Linked DNA regions of Homo sapiens: regions 2, 3, 4, 5, 6 and 7 are each reported to be linked to region 1. The links are microRNA targets in miRTarBase. Many come from high-throughput screens and were not tested one by one. Region 1 holds a microRNA gene; each other region holds the end of a gene's coding sequence.
Evidence for each region. The annotated mature microRNA hsa-miR-8082 reads UGAUGGAGCUGGGAAUACUCUG and lies in region 1 at 1,985-2,006, shown strand. An mRNA with a match to its seed (bases 2 to 7 or 8) in the 3' UTR can be bound and repressed. Matches are read on the target gene's strand: a 7mer-m8 pairs with bases 2 to 8, a 7mer-A1 pairs with bases 2 to 7 and ends in A, and an 8mer does both.

Region 1 (4,000 bases):
GGACTCTCAAGGGGCTTCCAGGACCACCCTCCTCTAGTGCTGTGGCCAGTGTCCATTGGGAGTGGTTGGTGCCTGAGCTGAACTAGTTGTTAAATATTTTTAATATCCATCCTGCCAGTGGAGAAGGTGGAGCCTGAAGCAGATCTTGGGAGCAAAATACAATCTGGGTTCCTGTTGGGAAGAAAGTACACTTGTGCCTTCAGTAAGCATGTATTCAGCCAGGCATGGGCCTACCAAGATGAGTAGGACATGCAAACTTGGCTTGAAGGAGTGTAATCCAGGGATGGCCAAAGCAGGACTTTGAATATTGTGTTCCCATGTCCTGAGAAAGCACAGGGGATTATAGAGTACTTCAGGATGACAACTCAGCCTCAGAGGGTGGCAGAAAAGTTAAGTCCTGAAGCATTATGGGAAGTTCACACACTCAGTATTGGACTCATTAGAAAGACTGGAAAGCAATGGCTATAATACCATTTCTACTGGACATTTGTGGAACCCCCAAAATTTAGATGAGGCACATAGGCTAAGATTATCAAGAGATTCATAAGTCAAGATTTAGAATTTGAACTATATACTAGTGAAAGGCCATTGACCAAAGGCTGTTTTAGGAGAATCAATTAGGTTGTAGTCTGCATATCATAAGCTCTATTTTCTTTGAAGTTCCTACCAGCTAATAGGTACTTAGTAAATATTTGTGAAAAAAATGAATGAATTAATGACTAGGAAATCACCCAAAGTAGCAAATCTATTTATGGGAATTTTCCCACTACAGGTGACATGCCCCCAGATGAAACCAGAGGCCGCCAACATTGAAAAGGTGATGGAAGCAAAAAAACACTTCTAAAAACAGTAAAGACGTTGGTAACTAAGAAGTTTTAATTATAACCTTCTGCTCAAAAAAGGAATGTACCCTTACTGCAATTGCACACATTACTTGTTGTCGTAGTTCATTTGTGTAGCTACAAAAGAATACCCGAAGCTGGGTAATTTATAAAGAAAAGAGGTTTATTTGGATCACAGTTCTGCAAGCTGTACAAGAAGCATTGCACCAGCATCTGCTTTTGGTGAGGGCTTCAGGAAGCTTCCACTCACGGAGGAAAGGGTAGGAGAGCTGGTGTGTACAGAAACCAGGGGGAGGTGCCAGGCTCTTGTTAATGATCAGCCATCAGGGGAACTCTCATAGGAACTAATACAGCAAAAACTCACTCCTTATCACCAGAATGGCACTAAGCCATTCATGAGGGTCCACCCTCATGATCTAAACACCTTTTATTAGGCTCTGCCTCCAATATTGGGGATCACATTTCAACTTGAGGTTTGCAGAGTCAAATATGGAAACCACAGCATTGGTATAAAATATATGTATAAAACATATTTACTATAGAAAGTAGTAGACATTTTCTTGAATTGTTATTCTCTATATCAAGTTGTACATAAAATGCAATGGTTACATTTTAAAGAAATTTGGTGAAGGTAGGCTGGGCACCATGGCTCACACCTGTAATCTCAGCACTTTGGGAGGCTGAGGTGGGAGGATCACTTAAGCCCAGGAGTTCAAGACCCCCTGGGAAACATAGTGAAACCCCATCTCTACAAAAAAAAAAAAAAAAATTACTAGGTGTGCTGGCACACATCTGTAATTCCAGCTACTGGGGGGCTGAGGTGGGAGGATCACTTGAGCCTAGGAGGTGGAGATTGCAGTGAGCCAAGATTACACCACTGCACTCCAGCCTGGGTGACAGAGCAAGTCTCTGTCTCAAAAAAAAAAAAAGAAAAAAAAAAAAAAAGAAAAAAGAAGGAAAGAAAGATTACATTGTAATGTTAAGCATTATCTATTTATTTTTTTTATAATGAGGTATATCCAAACCAAGTATTTGTATTTACTTGAACTATGTAATAACTTTTGAATAATATCTCTTCTGCTATATTTAATAAGATTAGTTCCACTGTCCCTATAGTGGCTTTTTCAAGGTCGCCTGTGTGATGATGGAGCTGGGAATACTCTGGGGAGAGAGTCCTCTTTTCAGCTGTATTTTGCTTCCTTCCCACACAGACATCTGCTGTGCCTCTTACTCACTTTTAGTTGCTGTTTTGGATTTTATGCCCCTTTAATCAAAACTTATTATGCCACAAGATAGATTGACTTGTTTCCTGAATTCTTTATTTTTATTTAAGGGTTTCTCTGTGAAATCTTAGGCATATTATATCACATTTGATTGTCAAAATTTTACGTGTTTGATTTTTCAAAGCTGACCTTCATATCATATTTGTGTGGGCTTATGTGACTATAGTAAAACTTTTTTGTGCCTTTCTTTAATACTTCCTTATAAGAAGTATACGTGTAATTCCAGCAATTTGGGAGGCTGAGGCAGGAGGATCACTTGTGCCCAGGAGTTTGAGATCAACCTGGGCAACACAGGGAGATTCTGTCTCTATATTAATTTTTTTTTAAGTTTGATGGTGTGCACCTGTGGACCCAGCTATTTGGGAGGCTGAGCTGGGAGGAACTCTTCAGGCCAGGAAATTGAGGGTACAGTGAGCCTTGATTGTACCACTGCACTCCAGCCTAGGTGACAGGGCAAGATGCTGTCTCAAAAAAAAATAGTAAAAATCTTACAATGATTGACAGAAGTATAATAATTTCAATGGTGGCTTTGAGCTAATGAATTGTTTCTTAAAGCTATGTGAAAGCCAGCTGTGTAATAGTAGAGATTATAAATTGAAACTGTGTTTTTGATGAGTTTAAGTGTTGCTGACATACAGTTTATTTAAATTTCAGTCTTTTTTTTTTTCTGTACTCTTTACCTTCCTCAGTCATCAATGAGTTCCAAAAGGGGGCTTTGAAGTAAATCATAGATTCTGTTTGATACTGTAGGAATTTCCATATTCTAGTACAGCAACTCTATTAAATAAACACATTGTGTACTTAAATTGGATCTCTCACAAGTCACAAATAATATATTAGAACTAGAGCTGAAGTACCTTTATATTTGCTACTTTTGTGTCATACCTTTCTAGATTATTGGCTTTCTGAAGGATATTAGAAAGCATCTTCTAAGATACCTAGTAAAACAGAAGTACATAGAAAAATTTGTGAAAATCTTTCCTTTTTGAAAACCACTGGTTGTTACATATGAACTTTTCCCCAGAGTTACAAAAGAAAAAGAGTATTTTTCAGGAATAAAAGACATTTAACAATTTTATATTAGTAAGGTATATATTTCACAGATTTGTCTATACCATCTATAATACATAATCATTTCTTTTAAAAAATGGCTTATGATATTCAGCTTTTTATGCATTCTTACAGCATACATTTTGACAGACTAGATGATTAATGATGACATAGGATAAACTGTATTTGGGATTGTGTAATAAACACACAGTATGAAAAGTCTAGTTAATCCTTTATGTCAGCGCCTCCCAAAGTGTACTCTGTGAACTACCACATCAGAAGAATCGCCTGGTGTGTTTTTAAATGATGTAGATGGCTGAGCTTTACTCCAGACCTCCTGAGTTAAAATCTCAGAGGTGAGAGCCAAGAATATTTATTTAACAAGATTAAGCATAGTCTCTAAGTAACCCTTAAGTGCACTTAAGTATGATAACCACTGCTTTGTGTTGCAAGAGGCTGACTTTACTGAAGAGTCAGGGCTGAATATGTAACATCAGCACATAAGAGCATAAAAGTAGAAGAAACCCTTCACATTTTATTAAGCTTCTTCTTATCCAGGTTAATTCAATGTATTGCCAAAATTCTATTTAGAGGCAATTAAAGTAGCTGAGACCACATGGGACATGTGGGAATGGAGGATACTCTGCCAGCAAATGGGCCCTTCTGCATTTCATATGCATCACCTTAAAAGTAAGAAAATATCTGTGCTGTATCACCATAAAGTTTTAAACCATAACACTTAGAATAAATTTAAGTTTCACTTCCAAAAACTAATAATTACTGTGTACCTATATAGAGTCCTTTTATTCATTGTTTAACCTTGTC
Region 2 (4,292 bases), not on the chromosome of region 1:
TGCCCCCATCCACACTCCTGCCCCGACCTCCCTTCCTTTATCCTGGCCCCCCACTCAGTCTCCAGCCTCTGGTTCCATCCGGCCTTCCCGCAGTGCCTGCAGTGCCTCTGGGAGGCCTGGAAGTTGCCCAGGTTCCGCCAGCCACCCAGCCGGCAGCTCAGCAGGAGGGGGCGATGGGGCCCAGAAGCTGTGCGAGCGCGGGACGGGACTCGCGGGAGGCGGTTCAGGCCCCAGGCTACCCTGAGCCAGCCCGGAAGGCCTCGCAGCACAGAGCGGCCGGACCGCTCGGCGAGGCCAGGGCCAGGCTTCAGCGACAGTGCCGAGCTCCTCCACCGCCCTCGAACCCACACTGGAGAGGAGCCCTACCAGTGTTTCCGGTGTGGAAGGCCTCCAGCCGGAGGTCCAACCTGGCCCGACACTGAAGAACCAGCGTGCTGCAGCCCTGGGTGGAATTGTTGCAGCCGCCGGTGGACTGTGGATCTGAGATGCAGTCCCCTCCCTCCACACAGACCCGCTCAGGACGGCTTTTCTGTATGGCAGATCTTTCTCAGAAGTGCTGGGGGCTATTTTGTTTGTTTTTTTTCCCCTGAATTCTCGCTCCTTTCCCTTATACATTAAGGGATTTAGGCAGGTGCGGCTGCGGGCGGTGACTCACACCTGTAATCCCAGCGCTTTAAGAGACCGAGGTGGGAGGATCGCGTGAGCCCGAAGAATTTGAGACTAGCCTGGGCAGCCTAGCGAGACCGCATCTCTGTGAAATAAAAATAAAACGAGCTGGTGTGGTGGCGCTGGCCTGTAGTCCCAGCTACTCAGGAGGGTGAGGCGGAAGGATCGCTTGAGTTGGAGAGTTCAAGGCTGCAGTGAACTATGATCAGGCCACTGCACCCCAGCGTGAGAGACAGAGTGAGACCCTGTCTCTCTAAAATAACTAAAATAACAAAAGGATTTAGGTAGGTAGTAGGCAAAGGTATATTATCGAAGTAACAATAATATACAAGGTATATTATCGAAGTAACAATAATATACAAGGTATATTCTTGGTGTGGACAGGAATAATATTGTGTTATCTTAATATTAGTGATTATTTCTCTCTCCTTTTTTTTTTTTCTTGAGACGGAATCGTGCTCTTTTGCCTAGGCTGCAGTGCAGTGGCATGATCTCTGCTCACTGCAACCTCCATCTCCCGGGTTCAAGCGATTCTTCTACCTCAGCCTCCTGAGTAGCTGGGATTACAGGCGCCCACCACCACGCCCAGCTAATTTTTGTATTTTTAGTAGAGAGGGGGTTTGACCATGCTGGCCAGGCTGGTCTCGAACTCCTGACCTCAGGTGATCCGCCCACCTCAGCCTCCCAAAGTGGTGGGATTATAGGCATGAGCCACCGCACCCAGCCTCTCTTGTGCTTTTTAGATAAGTATTTTTAAAAGTGTTTGTTAGTTGTCGGCTGGGCGTGGTGGCTCACGCCTGTAATCCCAGCACTTTGGGAGGCAGAGGAGGGCGGATCACGAGGTCAGGAGATCGAGACCAGCCTGGCTAACACGGTGAAACCCCGTCTCTACTAAAAAAAATACAAAAAAATTAGCCGGGCATGGTGGCGGGCTCCTGTAGTCCCAGCCAAGCTGGAGGCTGAGGCGGGAGAATGGCGAATGGCGTGAACCCGGGAGGCGGAGCTTGCAGTGAGCCGAGATCGCGCCACTGCACTCCAGCCTGGGCGACAGCGAGACTCCGAATCAAAAAAAAAAAAAAAAAAAAAGTGTTTGTTGGTTTGTTGGTTGTCTTAATGATGTGCTATTAGAGTGAGGAAGAAAAGTTACCCTATGAGAATTTAAACTGCATGAAAGTCTGTGGTAGCATTACTGGTTCAGTTCCAAGCTTGCTACCTCAGTCCTTGATGCCTCTTTCTCCCAATCCAAGTAGTATCAGGCACTGCCGTCTACTTGTTGTACCTCAGAAGAGTTTTTCGACAGCACCCCGTGCCCTCTGTGGCCTGTGCTCTCTCACAGGTGCAAGTCCTGTCATCATGAGCCTGGACTGTTGCAGAAGACTCCTAGCCAATCTCCCCTGCTTCCCGCCTCTGCATTCTGGTTCAGCATCCATAGAACCTACCAGTTATTATAGATTCCTCCCTCAGACTCCAGACTCCAACACTAAATCTGATGTCAGTCTCCTGCCTGAAAGGATCTCCTGCCTGCCACTCCCACCCCTCCACCCCCTCCGCTGACCCCAGCAGGGCCTACAGAACAGGGTTCAAATGCTTTAGCGTGGCATGCATGCTTCTCCATTGGGCTTCGCCTGACCTCTGTGCCTTTGCTGGCCAGGGCCTCCTGCACCTCTGTGTCTTTGCACTTGATTTATTTCTTTCCACTGCCCAAAATGACCTTTCCCCTTTTCTGTCTCCCAGACTTGCCCTACTCATTCATATGAGCCCCACTTCCACTTAGAGACTGCCCCACCTCTCGTGTCACACCTGACGTGGTGAGTGCTCCAGTGGCATTAAGAACATAGGGCATGTCTGTCTGGTAACCTATCTCCCCAGCAGACTGAGCTCCACGAGAGCAGAGACCCTGGTGCAGGGCCTGGCTCACAGTGGGTGCTCAATTAATATTACTTATGTGAAGGAACCACTTCCAGCTGCTCAAGTATTCTATGCTAAAACTTGGGTTTCTTTCATCCTTGTTGTCCTCCCAAGATACAATGTGTACATAATTGGAAAGTTAGCCAAGGTGACTATGAAGGTGACCCCACCCAATCAATCTATGTCTTCCTGGTTACTGTGCCTGTCATTCGATGATTCCACGGTTATGTCTATAGTGATAACAGAAAAAAGCAACTGAAAACAATATTATTTACTCGGGTCTCGTGCATCTCCTCCACACATTTGTAGAAATGAGATTACCACAAATTGCCAAGATGGTTACATCAAATTTTCAGCAGCATCAGTCATAGGACAAAAAGGCCTTTGAGTGTATTTTTAATAATCAGCATTTACTGGTGGCAAAATACTGGTTTAGAAAATATCTGAGATTATGGTCAGGCACGGTAGCTCACGCTGGTAATCCCAACATTTTGGGAGGCTGAGGCAGGTGGATCACCTGAAGTCAGGAGTTCAAGACCAGTCTGGCCATAATTTCAGATGGTGAGATTATAGTGAAACCCCATCTCTACTAAAAATGCAAAAATTAGCTGGGCGTGATGGCACACATCTACAATTCCAGCTACTCAGGAGGCTGAGGCTGCAGTGAGCTGAGATCGCACCACTGCACTCTAGCCTGGGCAACACAGTGAGACTCCATCTAAAAAAAAATCTGAGATTAATAGGTTGCCATTTTAGGCGCTCTTTATAGACCAGCTGGCCTAGTGGTCCTGGTTCTGTAATATGTGAAGTAAAGGTCTCGCAGGGGAGCACCAGTTTCAAACTCTGTCCTAGTTTGCAGCCTTGGCTGGAGTGACCCCAGTCATGAGGCAAACTGAGCACAAGTGTGCAAGTGTCATGGATTCAGCCAGAACATCAGTGTTCCCAGCATCAGACACAGATTCGGGAGAAATCAAGTCACAGTGTAGAGATGTATTGTGATGTGTCACTACACTATTATGAAATGGAAGAAAATAAAATTACAAGCCTCAACCTTTAAACATTTAGCAACTTGGGCTGTATCTCAATGTGTAATTTATTTGTCTCACTTCATTTTCACAAACATTAAATCCCTTCATATCAAGTGCCTATGAGGTTTAATTCATTAAAGGCATGCATACTCCAGAATGTTTATTAAATACATTTCTATCATTTCTACAAAAGAAGCCCCAAAACTTCAATAAAATATGGATCACAGTACAGGGGAACAGAAATCAGAAATGTGCTGGTAAAAGTTTAGAGATGTGGTATAGCTTCATAAAAAATGTTTAACAATAAATTAGGACTTAAAGCCCCATTTCTAACTGGCTTTTACGAATAGGGGATTTGTTATTTCACATAACTGAAAAGTCTTAAGAGTTCAGCTCTTTCTCAATTCCGGCACATCTTGACTCAGGGATTCACATAATATTAACAAGGCTAGATCTCCCATTTTTCAGGTCTGCTCTGAAAATGGCTTCAATATTGGCTTCAATTGAAGGCCCCAGCCTGAGGCTCCAGCAGCTCCAAGTCCAGTTGAAGTATAATTGTGTTTCAACAGTCCAAGAGACAGGCCTGAAAATTGGAACTCATGGACTTGTGCCCCTCCCTACAACAATCATCCCAGCCTGGGCAACACAGTGAGACCCATCTCTACAAAAAATTAAAAAATTAGCTGAGCA
Region 3 (4,000 bases), not on the chromosome of region 1:
GATTTTAAAGAATAATCTTAAACAGTGGTATTTTCTAGATTTTGAGGTCTTCTTTGAGCTCCACGGTTGCTGTGGCTTGGTTCAGCATCTTCCTCAGCATTCAGAATGATTTTGAATGTGATTAAGGATTTTTTTTTCTCCTGCATTCTTATCATTGTATTGTCTCCAACAGGCTATTTGATGCATGAATTTCATAAGTTTTGGATCGAAGAGGACCCCATGGACATAATGGAATTTAATCGTGTGAGGGAGAAATTCCGCAAGAGGATCATCAAACAGCTGCAGAACCCAGACATGGCGCTGTGCCCACATTTTGCTGCCTCGGAAGGTTTAATCAACATGTAGTTGCCCACGCCGGTTTTAATGGATACCCTGGAACACTGCCTCATTGTCTTGTTAGATCTCTGCTTAGGTCGCAGCTCACGCATTGAATGCACACAGTGATTGTATGCATGCCTTTTGGTACAGTGTTTTCATCTCTTGGTCATAATTCCGAGATCCCCAGAGACCACTGTTTCTGGAGTATCTGTCATCCAGTGACTGCTCATATTGTGGCATTATGCAGTGTTACATCTTGCCTTGATACCCAGGTATGGAGAGAGTTTTCTATTTTTTTAGACTTTTTTTCCTCTCCCTCATAATTCAGCATTAAAGAATTGTATTTCTCTAGCTGTATTTTGTATGTAAGAGGTTTAGCTGAATCTCATTCTGTGAAAGCCTTTTAATTTATTGAAATGTTTCATGACTACTGCTGCTAGCTCTTCAAGCCAGGTTCATGCTTGGACCTCATTCTGATAAAGTATAAGACTTTAAAATAATACAAAACAGGGCCGGGCGCAGTGGCTCACACCTGTAATCCCAGCACTTTGGGGAGCTGAGGCGGGCGGATCACGAGGTCAAGAGATCGAGACCATCCTGGCCAACATGGTGAAACCCCGTCTCTACTAAAAATAACAAAAATTAGCTGGGCGTGGTGGTGGGTGCCTGTAATCCCAGCTACTCGGGAGGCTGAGGCAGGAGAATCGCTTGAACCCGGGAGGTGGAGGTTACAGTGAGCCGAGATCATACCACTGCACTCCAGCCTGGCGACAGAGCAAGACTCCATCTCAAAAATAAATAAATAAATAAATAAATAAATAAATAAATAAATAAATAAATAAATAAAATAGTACAGACAGACACATGATAAGCCAAACTGTTCCTGCAAACATAGCTATGCTTCATGAGGCTTACAAGAAGTAACTTTAGGTAGGAGCTGTTTTTGTTTGAAGTACTGCAAAATTATATTGTAACTTCCCCTCACCCCAGTTGCAATTGTGTCATAGTCATCTGTATATCAAACTATTTTATTCCCATAACTTCATTGGCTTGGATGCCTAAGTGTATGATGCTTGAAGCCTCAGAAAAGAAATAAGCATATTTCAAAAGCTGCAAAAGGTTTTTCACTGCCTGCCTCTTGCGGAACTGGGTTACACCCTGGCACTGTTCTGATCCAAGCATATTTGCTTGGGGAACTAAGTGCTGACTAGTTTGTTTTCTATGTCAAGGGGCAATATTAAAAAACAATTTGCAAGAAAATGTGTTTCAAGAGAGCAACCTAAGCTAAGTCACTCTGCGATATTTCTTGAAAATAACGACCTTGTCTTGTATCAGTGGAAGAAGTAAGTTGCTTAGAAAGGGAAAAGTCAAATTGTTCCAGAACTGCTAAAAATCATTTTAAAAACCATGATTTAGTTTGGAATTATGATTGTAGTCTGTTGAATAGTATTTACCATGGCATTTCATACCCATGGTATTTTATACCTTCTGACTATCAATTTTAGTATTATTAGATGTTTGTGTAACCACTTGCTTATTTAAATGAATTTTGAGTACTGCCTAATTGTCAGTTATATGAATAAATTACATGTCATTCTACTGTAACGTATATTGGATTTCATATTAATATTTTTGTGCTCGTACAGCTTCTGAATATGCAAATATGTGAGTGAATGGAATGTCAAAGACAGACAACCTGGAGCTGACTATAAATCACACCATCATTCAGAGTCAGCAGGTTCACAACTTCCTAGGAAACCTGGCTTGGCTGTTGCTAGATAAAGCAGAAACATTAACTACCCATTGTTTTCTTGGCCTTTCTCTCCCTTCTGCGTTTGTATTATCCTTTCCTTCTGCGTTTGTATTATCCTTTCCCTTTCAGCCATGTACCAGGTGGCAGCATTTTGCATTGCCTTTCTTATGGTCCTGTGTCCCTTCTTAGAATGCGGAAGGGAAAGAGTTGATTAGCACATGGTGGATACCATGAGTAATGACAAGAATGTATATTCCTCTCTCAAGTAGGGGAGAACTTGTCAACCTAGTTCCTCAGGCCTGCCTGAGGAGCCCTGAATTTCCACCGTAGCTGCAGCTGCTGTAGATGAAGGCATTATTCCACATGCAGTCCAGCCTTTGCAGCCACATGTGCTCATTGTCTCTTTTTATCCATTGTGGTCCCATGTCACTGTCACGGCTTGACAGCATGTGGCACTTACACCAGCTTGCGTCTCTTCTGTTCAGATAGAGATAGTTGACGCCAACAAAGCTAAGAGTTTCCCCTCTCAGCTCCTAGGATGCTTTCTTTCTATTGTATTTGAACATGGCTGCACAATCTTAGGATGAACAAGCTGTGACGGCTCCTTTGAGCTCTGAGTATTATTAGATTTCTCATTCACACCACTTTGTGGAAGATGCATTCCACCCAGTCACACAAAGTGAGGTGAGAAAAAGAAGAGGAGAGGTTTCAAAAGCATCAACAACATGTGGAGTGTGTGTGTGTGTGTGTGTGTGTGTTTCCCTTGAATATTTTTAGCTTATACTTTTCCATTGAATAAGGGTTGACCACATAAAATGTCAATTGTGCGGCAAGCCTCTTCCAAGTCTTCCAAAGCACTACTTGCTATGATAAAAACACATTCCTGTTTGCACTACAGAAAGAAAACCTTCTGAAGCACTGTTTCTGAAACTTGACTCTGACCTTCCTTCTCACGGTTCTTGTTATTGTACTGTGCTGAAAAACTTTTGCCTGGTAACCCACCATCTTTTCCATATTTGAAAAGAGGCTTAAATATATGCCAATCCCAAAAGACAGGGTGACCTTACAATATATCTTCCAAAACAGAACACTGTTGAGAGAGAAAGGGGATGTTGTTAATGGTTTCTTTAGAACAACAGAGTAAACTGGGACAGTTTAAGAAAACTGAGATGTTAGGTGGCCAAGAGAGACCAAGAGACAGACATAAGGATTGTCCACCCACAACTTAATTAGGCAAATATAGCCCAATTTCTTTACTTTCAAGCCTCTGGCAGGAGAAGTACATCATACAGATATAGACATTTTGATATCCAGGATACTACCCAAAATCTTAGAGACCCATCACAAGCATGGGCTTGGTTTGAGCTGAGAAATTCAGCTGCATAGATGGGGCCTAAGTTGGCAATAGGCAATCAAACTCCATGGCAACAAATTATCTTGATCCGTAAACATATGGTGCCAGATCCAAATTGAAGGGGAGTGAGGAGGGGACCAGAGTTGGTGGAATATGAGGATAGGAGATGGCAGATGATGGAGAGAAGAGGAAGGGGGCAGAGAAAAAGGAAAATATCAGCTAGACCCATAGCCACTAAGCCTTCTGACACAGACTCTATTAAAGCAATGCCTCTAACTCTTCAGGGAGCTCAACAACGGTAGCTGCTCTAATCTAGAGAAAAAAATGACAGAAAAGCAGAACCAAGTATAACATGAAGTCCTAGAAGATGAAAGAGATTCTGGTACAGATTCCATTTCAAGAGCTCACATTTACCAGGTTTTTATGCCATGTGCCAGGACGGTGCTAGTCCTTACCTTGCATTATTTCATTTCCTTAACAACACACAGGATCAGATGGGTTGTTGTTTGCCTGCGCACTTGTTTTTCTAGACAAACAGGCTTAGATAATTTAATACATTGCCAAAGGTCTCAAGA
Region 4 (4,000 bases), not on the chromosome of region 1:
TGGGACTACAGGCACGTGCCAACACACCTGGTTAATTTTTTTTCGTATTTTTAGTAGAGACGGGGTTTCATTGTGTTAGCCAGGATGATCTCGATCTCCTGACCTCATGATCTGCCCACCTCGGCTTCCCAAAGTGCTGGGATTACAGGCATGAGCCACCACACCCGGCCTGTCTTCCTTTTTTCAATACATCAGTCTTACGGCAAAGACAGCCCTCCCAGGATTGCCCAAAGTCCCTCCTGCATTTACCTCTCTACCTCGGTTAATAAGTAGAGTGGCTCACCACTGGAGGGTGACATGCTGCTGCAGAATCACCATGTTATGCCTGTGGCTCTTCTGAATATCTTATCATTTTCCTGTTTAAGAGAGTTCCCACACTTCAAGACAATATTGGTATTTTAACATAGTAGCATTGATTAATATATTTGTCTCCCGATGAATCACCCAGACACTTTGATTTGGCCACTGCATATCTCTGAACAGGAAAGCCTATACAGGTCGAGTGTGATTGGAGGCTGAGGCTCAGCCCTAGACACCTATTAATGCGTGAACTAGTCTTCAAGGGCAGACCTGGTTATAAAGCTTCTAGATCATCGGAGTTTGAGGTACTCCAAGAAAATGAGGGTGGTGTTATTTAGAGGAAGCTGAATGTTAACTCTTTGTAATATAAATTACCACATATAAGTTGTATACACACTCTCCATCTAAATTATAAAATTAGCTTTTTGTATATATTTTCACAAATCAAAGGTTACAGGTAATGATGTTCTTCTCAAACTTCAAAAGTGTGTGTGTGTTTTAATACAGTTCATTTGAAGGGCTCAGAGAATATCTACTCTTCACAGCGTCCTATATAAAATAGTTTCTGTAATCAGATCAACAGTGATAACTTGTTTTATTCCAGTGTAAAATTAAACAAGTGGGAAAATATCTCCACAGAAACCAGAAAGACACAATTACATAGTTTGAAGGAGGCAATTAGAATCCAGCAAACCAGTGGGTTTGTTAAAAGCCTATTTCTTGACTGTCAGCCTGTTCTCTTGAAACTACAATATATGTTGCTTTAAGGTATCTTTAAACAAGTAACTATTTTCTCTTAGCTGGTAGTGGATGATAATTCCATTTTAGAAATACTTCTCTACAACTATCCTCTCTCAACTCTGAGGCTCCTAGATAAACAATAATTTTATCCATGTCAAAAATAAACTAAGAAACAATCCGAATAAATTATAATAAATACCTTTACTAGTTGTAAAATTTTAATACCTCAGGAAATACCACAGTGTTCCCACTAATGCTATTTTTTAATTTTTTAATTTAGTTTGTCATAATTTGGTTTCATCAACTCCTTTGTTTTTTCCTTCTTTTTTTTTTTTTGAGATGAGGTCTCACTATCTTGCCCAGACTGGTTTCGAATTGCCCTCCAGCAATTCTCCCACCTCAGCCTTCAGAGTAGCTGGCATTGTGGGTAGGCACCACTGTGCCCAGCTCCTGTTTTATAATAAATAAGCCAGAGCTCTATCTCCAAATGGTGCAAATCATCAATGCTATTAAAACAAGAATGGAAAAGCTTCAGGTGGTAATGGTGATTTTTTCATCCTCCCTACCCCCCTCCCATCCCAATGTGTGTGTGTGTGTGTGTGTGTGTGTGTGTGTGTGTATAATTTTTTTTTTTTTTTTAAGACAGCCTCGCTCTGTCGCCCAGGCTGGAGTACAGTGGCTCGATCTTGGCTCACTTCAACCTCCGCCTCCCGGGTTCAGGCGATTCTCCTGCCTCAGCCTCCCAAGTAGCTGGGATTACAGGCATGCACCACCACGCCCAGCTCATTTTGTATTTTTAGTAGAGATGGGGTTTCTCCATGTTAGTCAGGCTGGTCTCCTGCCCTCAGGTGATTGCCTGCCTTGGCCTCCCAAAGTGCTGAGATTACAGGCGGGAGCCACCTCACATAAATTCTCTTGACTCCTGGGAAAGGGAATTTGCTTTCACCATATTACCCCTTCTTCCAGCCACTTCTCCCAGAATACTAAACTTTTAGCCTGTTTAAGCAGAGAAGTTGCCAGCCCCAAACAAAGTTGACAGCTGTGGAATTATCTTACTACTAATTGGCATCATAAATAACAGAAATGTTAACTAATATTGTTTATCCTCTCATATTTGGCACTGCCTTTCCTTTTAATTAGGTAAATAAACAGTTATAATCTTCATCTTCCAGGGCCCATTAATCAGCTATTGCTTATAGAATTCTTTAAGAACTCATTTAGGTTATGATTATGGAAATTAAATTTTTATGAAAGATCCTGGTAACAGAGTCTAAATTATTGAATTGCATAATTTCCCAGTAGTTCCTTTCCTTTTAATGAGCCTTAATTTAGTTTGACTAATTAAAAGCTTTGTCCAGAACTCCTCTAGTGTGAAGTTGTAATCTACTAGCATAGATTTTTTTTTTTTTTTTTTTGAGATGGAGTCTCACTCTGTCGCCCACGCTGGAGCGCAGTGGCACAATCTCGGCCCACTACAACCTCCGCCTCCGGGGTTCAAGTGATTCCCCTGCCTCAGCCTCCCAAGTAGCTACGACTACAGGTTTGCGCCACCACACCCAGCTAATTTTTTGTATTTTAGTAGAGACGGGGTTTCACCATGTTGGCCAGGATGGTCTCGATCTCCTGACCTTGTGATCCGCCTACCTCAGCCTCCCAAAATGCTGGGATTACAGGCGTGAGCCACTGCACCCAGCTGCATAGATTTTTTTAACAGTACAATATTAAAACAAAGACTGATGTTTGTGTGAATTATGATTCTTTATTCTGACTGGTGCCTATGAAAGCAATAGGGAAACATGTCTACTAATGAGTTTTGTCTTTTTCCACAGAGAAAGCTTGGACTATATTTCTGGAAGGCACCCACTGTGGGGTGCTGCTTGTTCTGTGGTGTTGCTGTGCAGCGGCCGGGAGGAGCAGAGGGCTGCAGGAGACCCTCTGAGATTCTGCTTTGTGCACATGTACTGCCAGCGCATGGCATTCTTGAGCCCATAAAGCAAGACTTCTCAGGCCCTGTGGTTAGCATCCCCCACACCCATATCAGCCACTAGCATTTTAAAGATGGTTTTAGGTGGGTACATAAGGGCCCAGAAAAAAAGTTTTACAATTATTTTAGGGGCCTGAACCCTCATGTCATAGCTAATCAGTGAATGAAGTTACCTTTTAATCCAAGAGCCTCATCCCTGTTTTCTTGGTACTAAAAACTTTCACCAATCTGAATCCTAGTGTCATACTCTAAACACGAACCCCACCCATCCCACTGTCACCAGATGGAGATCTTAGACTTGCAGGCTTCCAGTAGGGATTCTCCTGATGAGCGTGTGTACCAGTGCAGCTGGGCACAGTTGGGAACAGCAGGCTGGTCTTCAACACCTGGCTTCAGAGGCAGGGTGGGACTCCAGGCGCTTGCGCAGGTGGTTGGCAAAATCCACCTGGGTCTGGGACAGGACCTGGTTGATGATGCTCTTGGGCAGCCACCCCTGCAGTAGGAGGTAGGAGAATTTGGCCATCTTGTGGGTTTTGGCCCACTCTTGACACTGCACCCTATCACAAACAGGCTGCCAGGGGCTTGGTCTTCGAGCTCTGTTAATAGGTGCAGCCTTGGAGTTGCCCAGTCAAGGGCGGGAGGACTGCATTGCTCCTCTGCTGTCATGACTTTCAGAAGCACAAGACTGGCCAACAAGATGTTTCAGCCTGGTGTTCCCAGCTGTGTGACCCTGAACCAGTTATGTTGCCTTTTTCACCCTTCAGATCTCTGGACCTAAGTTTCCTTCTTTCTAAAATGATAACTACATATAAGAGTTGAACTTTGCTGTGAGACAGAAGAGGGCCAGGCGCAGTGGCTCACGCCTGTAATCCCAGCACTTTTGGAGGCAGGCAGATCACGAGGTCAGGAGTTTGAGACCAGCCTGGCCACCATAGTGAAACCCCGTCTCTACTAAAAATACAAAAATTAGCCATG
Region 5 (4,292 bases), not on the chromosome of region 1:
AGGCCAGCGTGTGGTGTGGGGTGGGAAAATGTTGAAACCACTTGTAGCAAGCCACACCTATTGGGGGAGAGGTGATAAGATTATTAAGCTGAAGTAAGGCTGCTAGAATGGCCTATAGAAACCGACTTGGACAGTGGATGGCAGCAGAAGGCCATTTATTAACAGATGCTGCTGGCAGTTTTGTCCTGATGGTTGGAATCCTTCACCAAGTAATTTGTATCTAATTACAAATTGTTTGTATCTGAACATAATATGATTTACTAGAGGAAAAGTATGAAAAAATATGAAACATTAAGAAAATAAATATTCAGGTTATGTCTTTTCTAGATACTGGATGCTACTTCATTTTGATGCACCTTCATTTTGATTATTGGCATAAAGGTGAAACTTAAAAGATAATCATCTAAAGACCCCTGCCCCCTTGCTTTCCTTATGGAGACTGCCACTTCCAGTCTGGCCTCTGCTTTGCCTGCCTCTGAACCCCCTCCACATTTGGGAGCCAGAAGCAGGCAAGTCAGGAATCGTAATTGATTGGGTAGTCTGTGTGATGTCTTTGTGTTTGTGACTTACTGCCTGTCGCTTGGGCTTATATTGGATTTACTTCACTTTGTCTTCCTTTCACAGCAGTCTTGTCCAAGTTAGAGACCACTGTATCTGCTTAAGATTTCTTTGGCCCCACTCGGAAAAAGGCAGGACTCATAACTATGCTGCAGTTCCATAATCCAACCCCCATTTTGATATTTCAGTTGGAAAGAGATGTGGCTGCAAGATTATTGGCAAGGTCTGGACCAGGGGGAAGCTCTCACTGCCATGATCCACAACAATGAAACAGAGCAGACGAAATTTTGGGATTACCTACATGAAATCTTCATGAAGAGGCAACATCTCTAAGTGCCCTTGCAAGAGCCTTTAACTTGGCGGAGCTAAGGAGATCTTATTCTACCATGGGACATAAGGAGCATCCACTGCACAAACCCTTAATGAACACTGTCTTTTCATGGATTCAAGGAATTCCAGTTTTATCTATTAAGATTTTATCTTAATGATGAGTAGCCAAGGTCTAACATAGGGCCTCTCCTCAAGGAGAGATGGAGGGATACAATTCTTGGTTCAGTGGGAAACAGAACCCTAAAACATCCATTTGATTCAAGGTGCTGGTCCAACAGAGTTTTTAAACTACTCACTTCTTTATTTCATCCTTTCGACTGTACTTGATTACCAGTGAAGTAAGATGGGTCAGGTTACGACTTACAACTTTTGTTCTATTCCCCAGACTCCTCATTATTCAGTACATTTCCCAATAATCTCTTTTTCTCATCTCTTGCTTTATAAATTGTTACGTTGGTGGAGAAGCAAAACATTTGGTGAGTTGTATTCTGGTTTTCCGGAGTTGGATTTTTTTATATTATATACTTTCATGTCAAACTTCTATTTTACTTATTTATTTATTTTTTTAAAATATTTTTTGTAGAGATGAGGTTTTGCCACATTGCCCAGGTTGGTCTCCAACTCCTGGATCAAGCAATCCATCCGCCTTGACCTCCCAGAGTGCTGGGTTTACAGGCATCAGCCACCTCACCCAGCCCTAATTTTTTTTTTTTTTTTGGCTTTTTCTGGCCAGGCGTAGTGGCTTATGCCTGTAATCCCAACACTTTGGGAGGCCGAGGAGAGGCGACTGCTTGAAGCCAGGAGTTTGAGACCATCCTAGCAAGACCTTGTCTCTAAAAAATAAAAGAATTAGCAGGGCATGGTGGTGCACACCTGTAGCCCTAGATACTTGGGAGGTTGAGGCAGGAGGATCACTTGAGTCCAGGAATTTAAGGCTGCAATGAGCTATGATCATGATCACTGCACTCCAGCCTGGGTGACAGAGCGAGACACCGTCTCAAATTATATATATATATTAAGATGGAGTCTTGCTTTGTCACCAGCTGGAGTGCAGTGGCATGATCTCGGGTCACTGCAACCTCCACCTCCCTGGTTCAAGCGATTCTCCTGCCTCAGCCTCCTGAGTAGCTGGGACTACAGGCATGCACCACCACGCCCAGCTAATTTTTTGTATTTCTAGTAGAGACAGGGTTTCGCCATGTTGGCAAGGATAGTCTCGATTTCTTGACTTCGTGATCCGCCCGCCTTGGCCTCCCAAAGTGCTGGGATTACAGGTGTCAGCCACCGCACCCGGCCTCAAATACATTTTTTTAATGGCCTTGTCTTTCCTGGTTTTAGGCCCTTTTCCACAATTTCTGATGGAAATACAGAAACCTTGCCATCATTCTTACTGCTGGTTTGCATCTCATTTATGGTGTATCTGGGATTTCTTCTCATGAACAGAAAGATTCAGTGGCTGTTATATGCCTTGTCAATTTAATGTATTGCCCTATCCTCTTTTTGATCAAAGATAGAGACTAAGACTGGGAATTATGACAGAAAAAGTCATATTTTTCTTTAAATGATTTTGAAATGTTAAAATAGGCCAATATGAGTCAAAGTGCAAATTTTTTGGTGAGTAGGTTGACAAAAAAAAAAAAAAATCCAGGAAAAAAAGTGCAAATTTTTATAGGTCCTAATTCTTTTGTTTGCCTAATGAAGTGTTCCCTCTATTTTATTGTTTTTATATGCTACAAAGTCCCATCTTCTGCAGTTATGGAAACAGTGTGGCTGTATGTTTTAGTAATTATTTCATAATCTGTAGCACTTTTCACTTTAAGTGCAATGAATAGTCCAGCTTCATTCACTGTATTACTAATACGCTTCCCTATGACTTTTTTTTTTTTTTTGAGATGGAGTTTCGCTCTTGTTGCCCAGGCTGGAGTGCAGTGGCGCGATCTCAGCTTACTAGAATCTCTGCATTCCCAGTTCAAGTGATTCTCCTGCCTCAGCCTCCCTAGTAGTGGGGATTACAGGCGCCCGTCACCACATCTAGCTAATTTTTGTATTTTTAGTAGAGATGGGGTTTCACCATGTTGGCCAGTCTGGTGTCGAACTCCTGAGCTCAGGTGATTCACTTGCCTTGGCCTCCCAAAGTCCTGGGATTACAGGCGTGAGCCACCGTGCCCAGGTGCCCCCACCTTTTTTTTTTTTTTGAGGCAGAGTCTCACTCCATCACCAAGGCTAGAGTGCAGTGGCGTGATTTTGGCTCACTGCAGCCTCTGCCTCCCAGGTTCAAGCAATTCTCGTGTCTCAGCCTCCAGAGTGGTGGGATTACAGGCACGCACTACCATGCCTGGCTAATTTTTTTGTATTTGTTTTAGTAGAAACAGGGTTTTGCCATGTTGGCCAGGCTGGTCTCGGACTCCTGACCTCAAGTGACCCACCCGCCTCGGCCTCCCAAAGTGCTGGGATTACAGGAGTGAGCCCCGTGCCCAGCCTGAGACTACTTTTTGATGGAGCCCACTCAAGGGGATGAGGAGGTTTAAGCCACAAGTGGCTGGCTAAATAAAAGCTTAGTCAGAGCTGGGCACGGTGGCTCACACCTGTAATCCCAGCTACTTGGGAGGCTGAGGCAGGAGAATTGCTTGAACCTGGGAGGCAGAGGTTGCAGTGAGCTGAGATCGCACCATTGCACTCCAGCCTGGGTGACGAGCGAAACTCCATCCCAAAAAAAAAAAAAAAAAAAAAGCTTAGTCAGATTTGGGGATGCAGCCAAACCCTTCTGTTGCTGTGGTTTGAACATACAGTCTAATGAGCAGGGAGACCATTAGCTCTTTCTGGGGCAGTGGGACAGGAAAGAATACCTTGGACCTTAGGGCTACTCTAGTTGTAATGTATTAGTGAGTTATCACTAGAGAAGTTCCACAGTTTAATATTATCTATACCTATATCTATATATCTACCTATATAGATAGATATATGTTAGATGCTTCAACAACTAGGGTCTACACTTAATATACTGACATCTAAGGATGCGGCCAAGAAAAGCTGTAATTAGGCTGAATTTTATTGCCAAAGTTGTTCTTTTTTCATTTAGTCCTTTAATAAAAGATGATCTTCATAAATTACAGAAAGTTTGCTTACCCTGTTTGACCTTTTGCAGAAAAGAACAAGAGGGAAGACAGACCTTCAGGCTGGGTGCAGTGGCTCATGCCTGTGATCCCAGCACTTTGGGAGGCCAAGGTAGGAGGATCGCTTGAGCCCAGGGATTCAAGACCAGCTTGGGTAACATGGTAAAACCCCATCTCTACAAAAAACAGAAAAAATTAGCTGGGCATGGTGTGTGTGCCTTGTAGATCCAGCTACTTGGGAGGCTGAAGTGGGAGGATCGCCACTGCACTCCAGAAACTAAAAAAAAAAAA
Region 6 (4,292 bases), not on the chromosome of region 1:
TGCATGCATTAAGTATTTGTCCTAATGCTCTCCCTCCCCTTTCCCCCTACCCCCCAACATTTCCCCGTGTGCGATGTTCCCCTCCCTGGGGGCATGGAGGTTCTTAAGAGACAGGTGACTCCTCACAGTGTTTCCAAAAGCATCTGCTCAAACCTCAAACAGTGTACATTGCCTTTATTTATTTATTTACTTATTTTTTCTGAATGTTGGTAAATAATCAGAATACCTTGCCTGTCTTAATTTTTCTTCCTCTTCTATGTTTCACTCAACATGTCTATAATCTACGGGCCTAGAATATAGAGTATTCCTATTGCTCCTCAAAGATGTTAAAGTATTGTATCTTTCCTCTTTTCTTCTTTCCCTTTCTGTTACAGGAAAAGAAGTGATGATCACTTGATACCTATTAGCTAAAGTTCTGCTAAAGATGATTAAAGTTCAGGCATCCTTATCCAGCGGCTGAGCAGAGGAACCCCAAATGACTTGGACAAGCAGTTCCAAAATGACTCTCTTATTTAATTGTGGAGTGGGAAAGAGGACTCACAGTTAGCCAGCTGACCATGACTGAAGTTCCAGCTTTACTTTTTATAAACTTGAATGATAAAGAATAGACCATGGGCTACTACTGGGCATTAGTGCAATATAACAGCGATAATAAAATTCTCTATTAGTCTGTTAATTTATGACATGATCTCGGAATGGAAAAAGATCATTTCAGAGTGTGCGAAATAATAGTCTTTAACCATGTAATTAAATATGTGTGTTTATTGTCAAATAAGGATTTGTTTTAAAGGTGATTCTTGGGTTTGAAGACATTTGTTAATTCATGGTCTGTACAGAAATGAAGCTGGTTGCAATACCAATCTAGAGAGTCCAAGCTGGTGAACTATTAAGCTGTTTAAAGATCACCCTTGGCCTGGCACAGTGGTTCACACCTGTAATCCCAGCACTTTGGGAGGCCTAGGCAGGCAGACTGAGCTCAGGAGCTTGAGACCAGCCTGGGCAACATGGCAAAAACCCACCTCTACAAAAAGTACAAAAATTAGTCGGGCGTGATGGCAGGCATCTGTAGTCCCAGCTACTTGGGAAGCTGAAGTGGGAGGATCACCTGAGCTCTGGAGGTGGAGGCTGCCATGAGCCATGATCGTGCCACTACACTCCAGCCTGGGTGACAGAGTGAGATCCTGTCTCAAAAAAAAAAAAAAATCACCCTTAAATCAACAAAAAGACCTCATGCTCATGCAGTGGACATTTCTTGGCCTGTTTTCCTGTGGGTTTTCTTCAGCATGATATGAAGCAACTGTTGGCATAGCCAGTGGGATAAATAAGAAATGGAATCATTTGGCTGCCTCGTCACTTGTGCTAATGGTCAGTTGTACACACATGACATGTGGAAGTGACCTGTAGCAGCGGTCACTCATTTTAACAATTGAACTCTGCTGGGTTGGGTATTTACCTTTGTCTAGAAAAGAAATATGATATATTTTCTCTAAATAAATTTATTTTCATCATTCCATATGGCATTCTTACTATTTTATGCATTGTCTCTAAACAACTACCTAATGAAACATTCAGATCACATCTCTCTTAACCACTTGGTCTCCAAAAGGGATTTCCCAATTTCTTAAAAGCAGTGAAGGATATACAGGGGCTAAGATATAGAAGTTATTCAATAAATATTTATGATGATAGCTTGAGAGATGAAGATCACTTCATGCATAGACTTATTTCATACCTGAGCTATCTCAGTGGCCAACTATTTAAAGTTATTGGTGAAGAGGAGAATTTGAATTAAGCAGGACCCTCCTTCCAGGGCTCTTCCTCTTTCTCCTTGGCCTCAGTCGCCCTCCCCACAAGCCCCTACCCAATTTTCCTTCTCATGTCACCTTCCCCCTCCTTGCTCTGACCCCATCTTCATATGCCTGCACCAACTATAGGCAGGGAAAATCATGCAGTTAATACCATTAAAGTATATAAGAGAGTAGATGACTCATGTCTACACACAGAGTACTTTGCTAAAATTATTTTAAACTTTCTTTTTTACAAGATATGTGAAGAGTTATGTTTGATTTTTAAACTAAGACACCATTAAACTGGTGGTTCTGGGGTCATTTGCCTGACCCAAGAATCAGATACGTAATTGGACCACTTGTTAACTTCTGAGTATATTGTCATATACTTAGTTTTGTCTCTGAAAAGAACTGCTATTTTTTTTCTTTCTCTCTTTTTTTTTTTTTTTAAACAGAGTCTTGCCCTGTTGCCAGGCTAGAGTGCAGTGTCATGATCTTGGCTCACTGCATCCTTTGCCCCCCAGGTTCAAGCGAGTCCCCTGCCTCAGCCTCCTGAGTAGCTGGGACTACAGACATGCACCGCCACACCTGGCTAATTTTTTGTATTTTTTTAGTAGAGATAGGGTTTCACCATATTGGCCAGGATGGTCTTGATCTCCTGACCTCGTGTACGCCCGCCTTGGCCTGCCAAAGTGTTGGGATTATAGGCGTGAGCCACCACGCCCAACCCAAGAATTGCTATTAACATGGTGAAACCCTGTATCTACTAAAAATACAAAAATTAGCTGGGTGTGGTGGCAGGCGCCTGTAGTCCCAGATACTCAGGAGGCTGAGGCAGGAGAATCGCTTGAATCCGGGAGGCGGAGGTTGCAGCGAGCCAAGATCCGGCCACTGCACTCTAGTCTGGGTGACAAAGTGAGACTCCATCTCAAAAAAAAAAAAAAAAAAAAGCTTTCATTTGTTCTGCAGCTGTGACTGCCATTTGAATAGAAGATTAATGATGGGTTTTCATGCTCATATTATTCTTCTATTGGCTTTCATGTTTTCTTTTATTTATTTTCCCTCCAGCTGGACAAAACAGTTTTAGAAAGAAAAATGTTTTTCAGGGTTAGCTCACATCTATAGAAACATTGTTTTCTCCCTTTTTAATAATGTTAAACAATTGTCACTTTATCAACTGTATTGTTATTTGGATTTTATTGAACAATGTTGTCTCATAATTCTGCTAATAGATGCATCTGGGATAAATCATTTTCTCTCTTATCATAGGCCTCCACTTAGAGGGTTCCCTGTGAAAGTTAGGAGACACATTCTTTCTGCCTGCTGGTTTCATTCTGGGATCTCCAACCCTTGAATTTAACTCCTTGGCTTGTGGTGACACAGTCAAAACCATATACAACATCTTAAAGCTTTTTCACTTGAGCTGGTAGGAGAGAGTGTGGGCATAAGAGCCATCTAGACAGACTTGAGTTAAAATTCCAGCTTAACCTAACTTTAAGGCCCTGAACAAGTTACTTTCTTCCTCTAAGTGATGATAAACCTCAACCAAGACTGGCACTTAAGTCACATAATTTATGCAGAGCCTGGTATTGAATTCATTCCTGAGCTGTTATTTCCCTTTGATTCTCTAACATGTTTGCAATAGTTTCCATGGGACCATGGAATAATGCAGACACGACTTTGCTTCTGCAACCTGTCTGCCTCAGCTGTCCTCTTCCTACTGCTACCTGAGTCTCCTTGGACAGGTCATGCCATGCATAGATTTCCTCATCCATAAAATGGGATTATGAGGATTGAATGAGTCAAACGTAAAGTGCATAGAATAGGGCGTGACTCCTAAGTGCTCAATGACTATTAGCTCTTCAAAAAACATGTCTTACTAACATGGTCTACAAATGTACAAATCTGTTCATCTGGGCCAGCCAGGAAGATTTTTATTTTATAATGCACTCACCACACACTTCTGGTGGACTTTGTTCTAGTTAGAACTTTAAGTGTGCAAAAGTCCCCCATCCAGTCCTGTCCTGGAGGCAATGATCAGTTCAGCCCTAAGAAGCTCACACCTAGCCATAGAGGAGCAGCAAGGAGAAGCAGCCTAAATGGCTGGGGCACAGCTGTCAGTCCTGATGGAAGAGAAAAGGTCCAGGAGGTGCACAAGCTGTCACAAAGCCTCAGTCCTTCACCCTGGGTGAGACCCTCAGTCCTCTACTAGGACTACCCCCTTAACCAAACTTGTCAGAATGTATAAAATTCAGGCCCACTTCCTTCTCAACCCATTGCTGACTCAAAGTGGTGAATGCAAAAGAGTGAGAGAGGGTAGTTAGGAAAAGCTCTTCGTGCGATTCGAGGCACTGTCCCCCACTCCTGCTGAGGACCTACACTCCAACAATTGTAAAAAGGGTACACTGATCCAGTGGAAGACCACGCTTGGAATCATGGGTTTATGAAAAGCACAATAGCCCAGCCTTTTGATCTAGGGGTAGCCAGTCGCCCTCTTGTCCCTGT
Region 7 (4,292 bases), not on the chromosome of region 1:
AAAATGTCAGTGAAGGTGATACATGCATGTCTTCACTGGCTAGCTATAGGCCAGGTGTCAGAAGGTGGGAGTAAGGGTTTGCTTTGTTCCATTTTGTTGTTGTTTTGTTTTGTTTTGTTTTTCTTTTTTTTTTTTTTTTTAATGGCAGAGTCTCGCTCTGTCACCCAGGCTGGAGTGCAGTGGTGTGATCTCGGCTCACTGCAACCTCCGCCCCCCAGGTTCAAGTGATTCTCATGCCTCAGCCTCCCAAGTAGCTGGGACTACAGGCAACCACCACTACGCCCAGCTAATTTTTGTATTTATAGTAGAGACGGGGTTTCGCCATGTTAGCCAGGCTGGTCTCAAACTCCTGACCTCAGGTGATCTGCCTGCCTCGGCCTCTCAAAGTGCTGGGATTACAGGCTTGAGCCACTGCTCCCAGCCTATTTTGGTTTTTATAGAAGAATAACTCTGAGGCTAGTTTAAAAGGCCAGATTAAGTAATATCTTTAAGAAATAATCACCCCTCTTCATTACTCACACATGGACCACAGAACGATCATAGGTGACCTTGGGCAAGTAACTTCTCTTTGCCTCAGTTTCCCCACCAGTAAAATGAGGATAATTATGATACTGACCTCATGAGGTTGTTGTTTGGGGTTCCATGGTTCATTAGTTTGCCTGGCACATAGTAAGCCCCAGTAAATGTTACCATTATTAATGGTAGTGTGCTTTCTCTTGGAATTGGACATTGCAGAGGATGCCTTCAGCCTAGCCGTGGCCTCAGGGATCATTAAGGTCTTACTTTTCTTCCTGTCCTTCTCTTCCAGTGGTAATGGGAAACTGGCATCCTGGGCCTCCATCCTGGGATTTGTAGTGATGATGTCACTGGACGTTGGCCTGGGCTAGGGCTGAGACGCTTCGGACCCCGGGAAAGGCCATACGAAGAAACAGCAGTGGTTGGCTTCTATGGGACAACAAGCTTCTTTCTTCACATTAAAACTTTTTTCCTTCCTCTCTTCTTCATCTCATTATCCTGATTGACTCTGATTATAATAGAACCATTTTTACTTTGCTTTGAGGGAGATTTTTGATTTAATGGGGAATTTTAAGGTGTCATGGAAATACAGATTCTTTGTTTTGGCCACTGAATGGACTCTCTCTTCAGTGGGATTATCAAGGAACTTCAGATCAGGGAAATCTCCACTTCGGGACCTTCTATCTGCCTCCCAACTCCTCAAGGTCACCTATAGAAGCGAGCTACCAAAAGACGTCTCCTAAGCATTTTGGTGGCCTAGTGACTCAGGGCAGAGTGGCCAGCACACCTCTCATCCGCCCCTCCTGCTCCATCACTGCTGAGCCTCTCCCCATCTAGAATGTTGGAACTGGAGCATCATAAAGATAGCAAGCTACCTTCCAAGGCCGAGCCAGCCCAGAGAGGAGCATGTCTTCCTTTACCTCCCCCTAAGGAGATACTACATGGGAGGGGGACACAGAAAAAGGGAAGGAAATTGGCTAGTCTGGCTTTTTTTTTTTTTTTTTTTAAAGGCAAAGATTGACATTATTGAAGGAAAGGGGATGAGGACAACTGTGAACTCACAGTGAGCCCTGTGGAAAGAAGAGACAGACAGAGTGTGGGTTTGTTCGGAGGCCTCTGCTGTCAATGGATTCCAGGAGCAAGGCCATTTGTCGCGCTTTCCAAATTTCTTAGGCATTTATTTTGATAAGTTTATAGCCATCATGTTTCTAAGAGACTTGGAGACACCAGCAAACTGCTAGAACTCAAACTCTTCAATTACTCAAAGAAGGAGCCATTTCAGTTAACTCAAGTGAATGAAAGAGTTTTGGAATCTGCTGTGGGTCCTTCCCTGTTGACCATTTGGTAACTTATAATCTGACAAAAACTCTTGAGCTGCAACAGGCCTTGCCAGAGGGCTCAGGATGGGAAAGGAAGAAGGGGATAGGAAAAGAAGAGGTAATTTTACATTTCCCCTTTAAAGTAAATTTTAGCCAACTCATCATTCTGAAATGTCCCTATAAAGAATGAGTCGAACTAGACCAGAAGCCAGCCTACTCCTTCTTACATAGCTTCTCCAACAGGGGTAGCAATGACCTGTCCACTTCAAACACAGATAAGGCCTGCCATCCTCATTGGTTAAAGGCACACGTGAGACTTTCAGTGGGCTCTGCTGAGAAGGAAGGCAGCCCAGGAGTCAGGTATGCAGGCATTGCATTGTCAGTGTCTGCTCTCAGAGTTTACACATTCAATTGCTTCCAAGGGTGAATCTCCTGCTCTGTGAATGCTATCAGACCCCAAAGGCCAACCTTGGGCTGGGTCTATGTACGTTCTTCCGAAGCACTGATGATCAAAATTGAAGACACATTCAGAGGTTTGATTGGTTGAGATTAACTGGTGTGGTGGTTGGTGTATGTATGTTTTATTTTTATGTCTTTGTATGTAGTTCTACATAATGCAAATTGTGCTTTCTGATGGACAAGACCTCATAACTGTGATTAATATCAATAAAAAGGGGATGTTGTGGATGACCTGTGTTACGTTCAGTACTTCTCAAAGCTGCTTCTTTGCAAGGATGATCATAAAAGAGCTAACTAAAGTTGGAACTAACACCTCCCTGATCCAACACTAGGAGAGGCAAAGGAAAGAGCTCAGATGGGAAGGGCTAGTCAGATTCTTGGTTGCAACAACAGCATCCAACAGCAGCTTACTTAAACAGAAAAGGAAATGAGTGGAAGCCTGTTAGGGAATTCACAGGCTCTTTCGGAGAATCGGGCTTGAAAATGGGTTGGATCCAAGAAAGCCAGAGGTCTGGGGCCATGACCCAATCACACCTGGAGAACAGCTTGGTTTAGATGCCATGGTCCCCAGAGCTGGTCCCTAGATCCTGGACACCACTAATGAAACTGCTGTACCTTGATGCCACCACCACTGCCGCCACAAGAACAAACTCTACACTGAGCTGGATTCTTTGTGTCCTGGCTCCACATTCGAAGTTCTAGATCAGAACATCCAGCTGCCAGAGCTTAGATCCTGTGCCCATGAACTAGCTGATCTTGCCCCTTCCCAAGACTCGCAAAATAGTGGATTTTCCAAATTTGGGAATGAGTTCATATGGTGCAGAGCCAAAATAGAAAAAAAAAAAAGGGTCTATTAAGTTCATTACAGCCTTACTCTTTTGCTGTTCAATATCAACATATACTCTAATTCCTCTAGTTTTACTTAAAGAAAAAACTCTTGCTTAAAATATGTAGCTATTCCTCATACAATCAAAACTTCTTTCATTCCCTTTCCAACGGGGTTACCCCAATGTCTTTCAACTCCTGTACTCAAGGTCTGTGAGTAATGGATACCCCACCTCCGTGGGATAACAAGCCCATCTCATTATTCTGTATCTTTGAGCTGAAGTGTAAAGTTAACCATAACCGTTCATCCCATATACAATAAAACGAATAACGGGAGAGGAAAGAGAGGCAATGAGTTAAAATAGGATACACACAACACAGGAAGTACAAGTAGAAGCTACAGCACCCATTTCCTGCCCTAGAGAAGAGACCCTGGATGATGTTTAGGTTTCCCGCTTCCAGTTTCCATTCCAAGTCCATGCTGTCTTCAGCCAGTACCTTAGATGACTGGGGTGTGACCTACTAGCCGTGACCCTATTCCTCTTTCCTAAGGGCACAGAGACCAAGGAGGCCCTGCCCATATGCATGATGGTAACAGTCTTCCCTTAACTCCCACCGCTGGAGGAGGAGGAGGAGGCGGCTCCTGAGAGAACCACTTGAGTTTCATTCATAGCCTCCACCCTGGCCTGTCTCCCGTGGTATAGCAGCATTTTCCCAGGACTAGTCACTGCAGCCAGCCTTGTCAACCCACTTTTTTGACCTAATGGCATGTGAAATTCCAGGTGGCCAGCCCACATGTCCAGACTATTGCTATATCACTCTTTTTCTGTTCAACATCTATATTCACTCTAATTCCCCAAATTTCACCTTTTTAAAAAATGTCTGCTTTAATGGAACCATCACTCATACAAACACTTTATATCCCCTTTCCAAAGGGAGCCACCCCAACGGTCAGCTGCCTCAATGGTGCAACCTTCCTTTCCTGGGAATAAAATCGCTAATTGGTGGAAAAAAAGTTGAAGAGAGTGAGAGTCATTAAGTAAGATGGAAGTTGCACCGTGCCTACTTCCCCTTCCTCCAGACCTGTTTAGTCTGGCTGTGGGAGAAACGGCACCACGTGATGTTCCCTAGTTCAGAACAAACAAGCATCTTAAAGGACGATATTTCAATCTC

Region 2: miRTarBase lists ZNF843 as a target of hsa-miR-8082. The part of its 3' UTR that is shown has no 7-base or 8-base seed match.
Region 3: the mRNA of ELMOD1 is a reported target of hsa-miR-8082. Seed matches in the 3' UTR shown: 7mer-m8 at 1,100-1,106.
Region 4: miRTarBase lists STAR as a target of hsa-miR-8082. Seed matches in the 3' UTR shown: 7mer-m8 at 3,308-3,314 and 7mer-m8 at 2,459-2,465.
Region 5: miRTarBase lists POFUT4 as a target of hsa-miR-8082. The part of its 3' UTR that is shown has no 7-base or 8-base seed match.
Region 6: miRTarBase lists MCOLN2 as a target of hsa-miR-8082. The part of its 3' UTR that is shown has no 7-base or 8-base seed match.
Region 7: miRTarBase lists SLC39A11 as a target of hsa-miR-8082. Seed matches in the 3' UTR shown: 8mer at 1,323-1,330.

Annotation. Positions count from the first base shown.
Region 1 is chr4:113,150,308-113,154,307 of GRCh38, forward strand. It overlaps MIR8082 (microRNA 8082), which reads left to right and starts at 1,975; the gene lies at 1,975-2,055. The region is part of intron 1 of ANK2 (ankyrin 2); the gene reads left to right.
Region 2 is chr16:31,431,933-31,436,224 of GRCh38, reverse strand. ZNF843 (zinc finger protein 843) reads left to right here. Exons shown (of 2, transcript NM_001136509.3): 2 at 1-791. The coding sequence ends at 422. Among named protein-coding and RNA genes, the nearest start is that of COX6A2, 5.7 kb to the right of the region's middle. RefSeq lists an enhancer at 244-744.
Region 3 is chr11:107,664,853-107,668,852 of GRCh38, forward strand. It overlaps ELMOD1 (ELMO domain containing 1), which reads left to right. Exons shown (of 12, transcript NM_018712.4): 12 at 173-1,927. The coding sequence ends at 345. Among named protein-coding and RNA genes, the nearest start is that of SLN, 45 kb to the right of the region's middle.
Region 4 is chr8:38,140,869-38,144,868 of GRCh38, forward strand. It overlaps STAR (steroidogenic acute regulatory protein), which reads right to left. Exons shown (of 7, transcript NM_000349.3): 7 at 1,832-3,518. The coding sequence ends at 3,405. Among named protein-coding and RNA genes, the nearest start is that of STAR, 8.1 kb to the right of the region's middle.
Region 5 is chr10:73,774,795-73,779,086 of GRCh38, forward strand. POFUT4 (protein O-fucosyltransferase 4) reads left to right here. Exons shown (of 3, transcript NM_173540.3): 3 at 747-1,425. The coding sequence ends at 891. Among named protein-coding and RNA genes, the nearest start is that of POFUT4, 4.7 kb to the left of the region's middle.
Region 6 is chr1:84,922,804-84,927,095 of GRCh38, reverse strand. MCOLN2 (mucolipin TRP cation channel 2) reads left to right here. Exons shown (of 14, transcript NM_153259.4): 14 at 375-1,513. The coding sequence ends at 411. Among named protein-coding and RNA genes, the nearest start is that of LPAR3, 32 kb to the right of the region's middle.
Region 7 is chr17:72,644,179-72,648,470 of GRCh38, reverse strand. SLC39A11 (solute carrier family 39 member 11) reads left to right here. Exons shown (of 10, transcript NM_139177.4): 10 at 809-2,522. The coding sequence ends at 887. LOC105371887 (a long non-coding RNA gene) reads right to left here. Exons shown (of 4, transcript XR_934961.3): 4 at 4,006-4,292. Among named protein-coding and RNA genes, the nearest start is that of LINC00511, 5.9 kb to the right of the region's middle.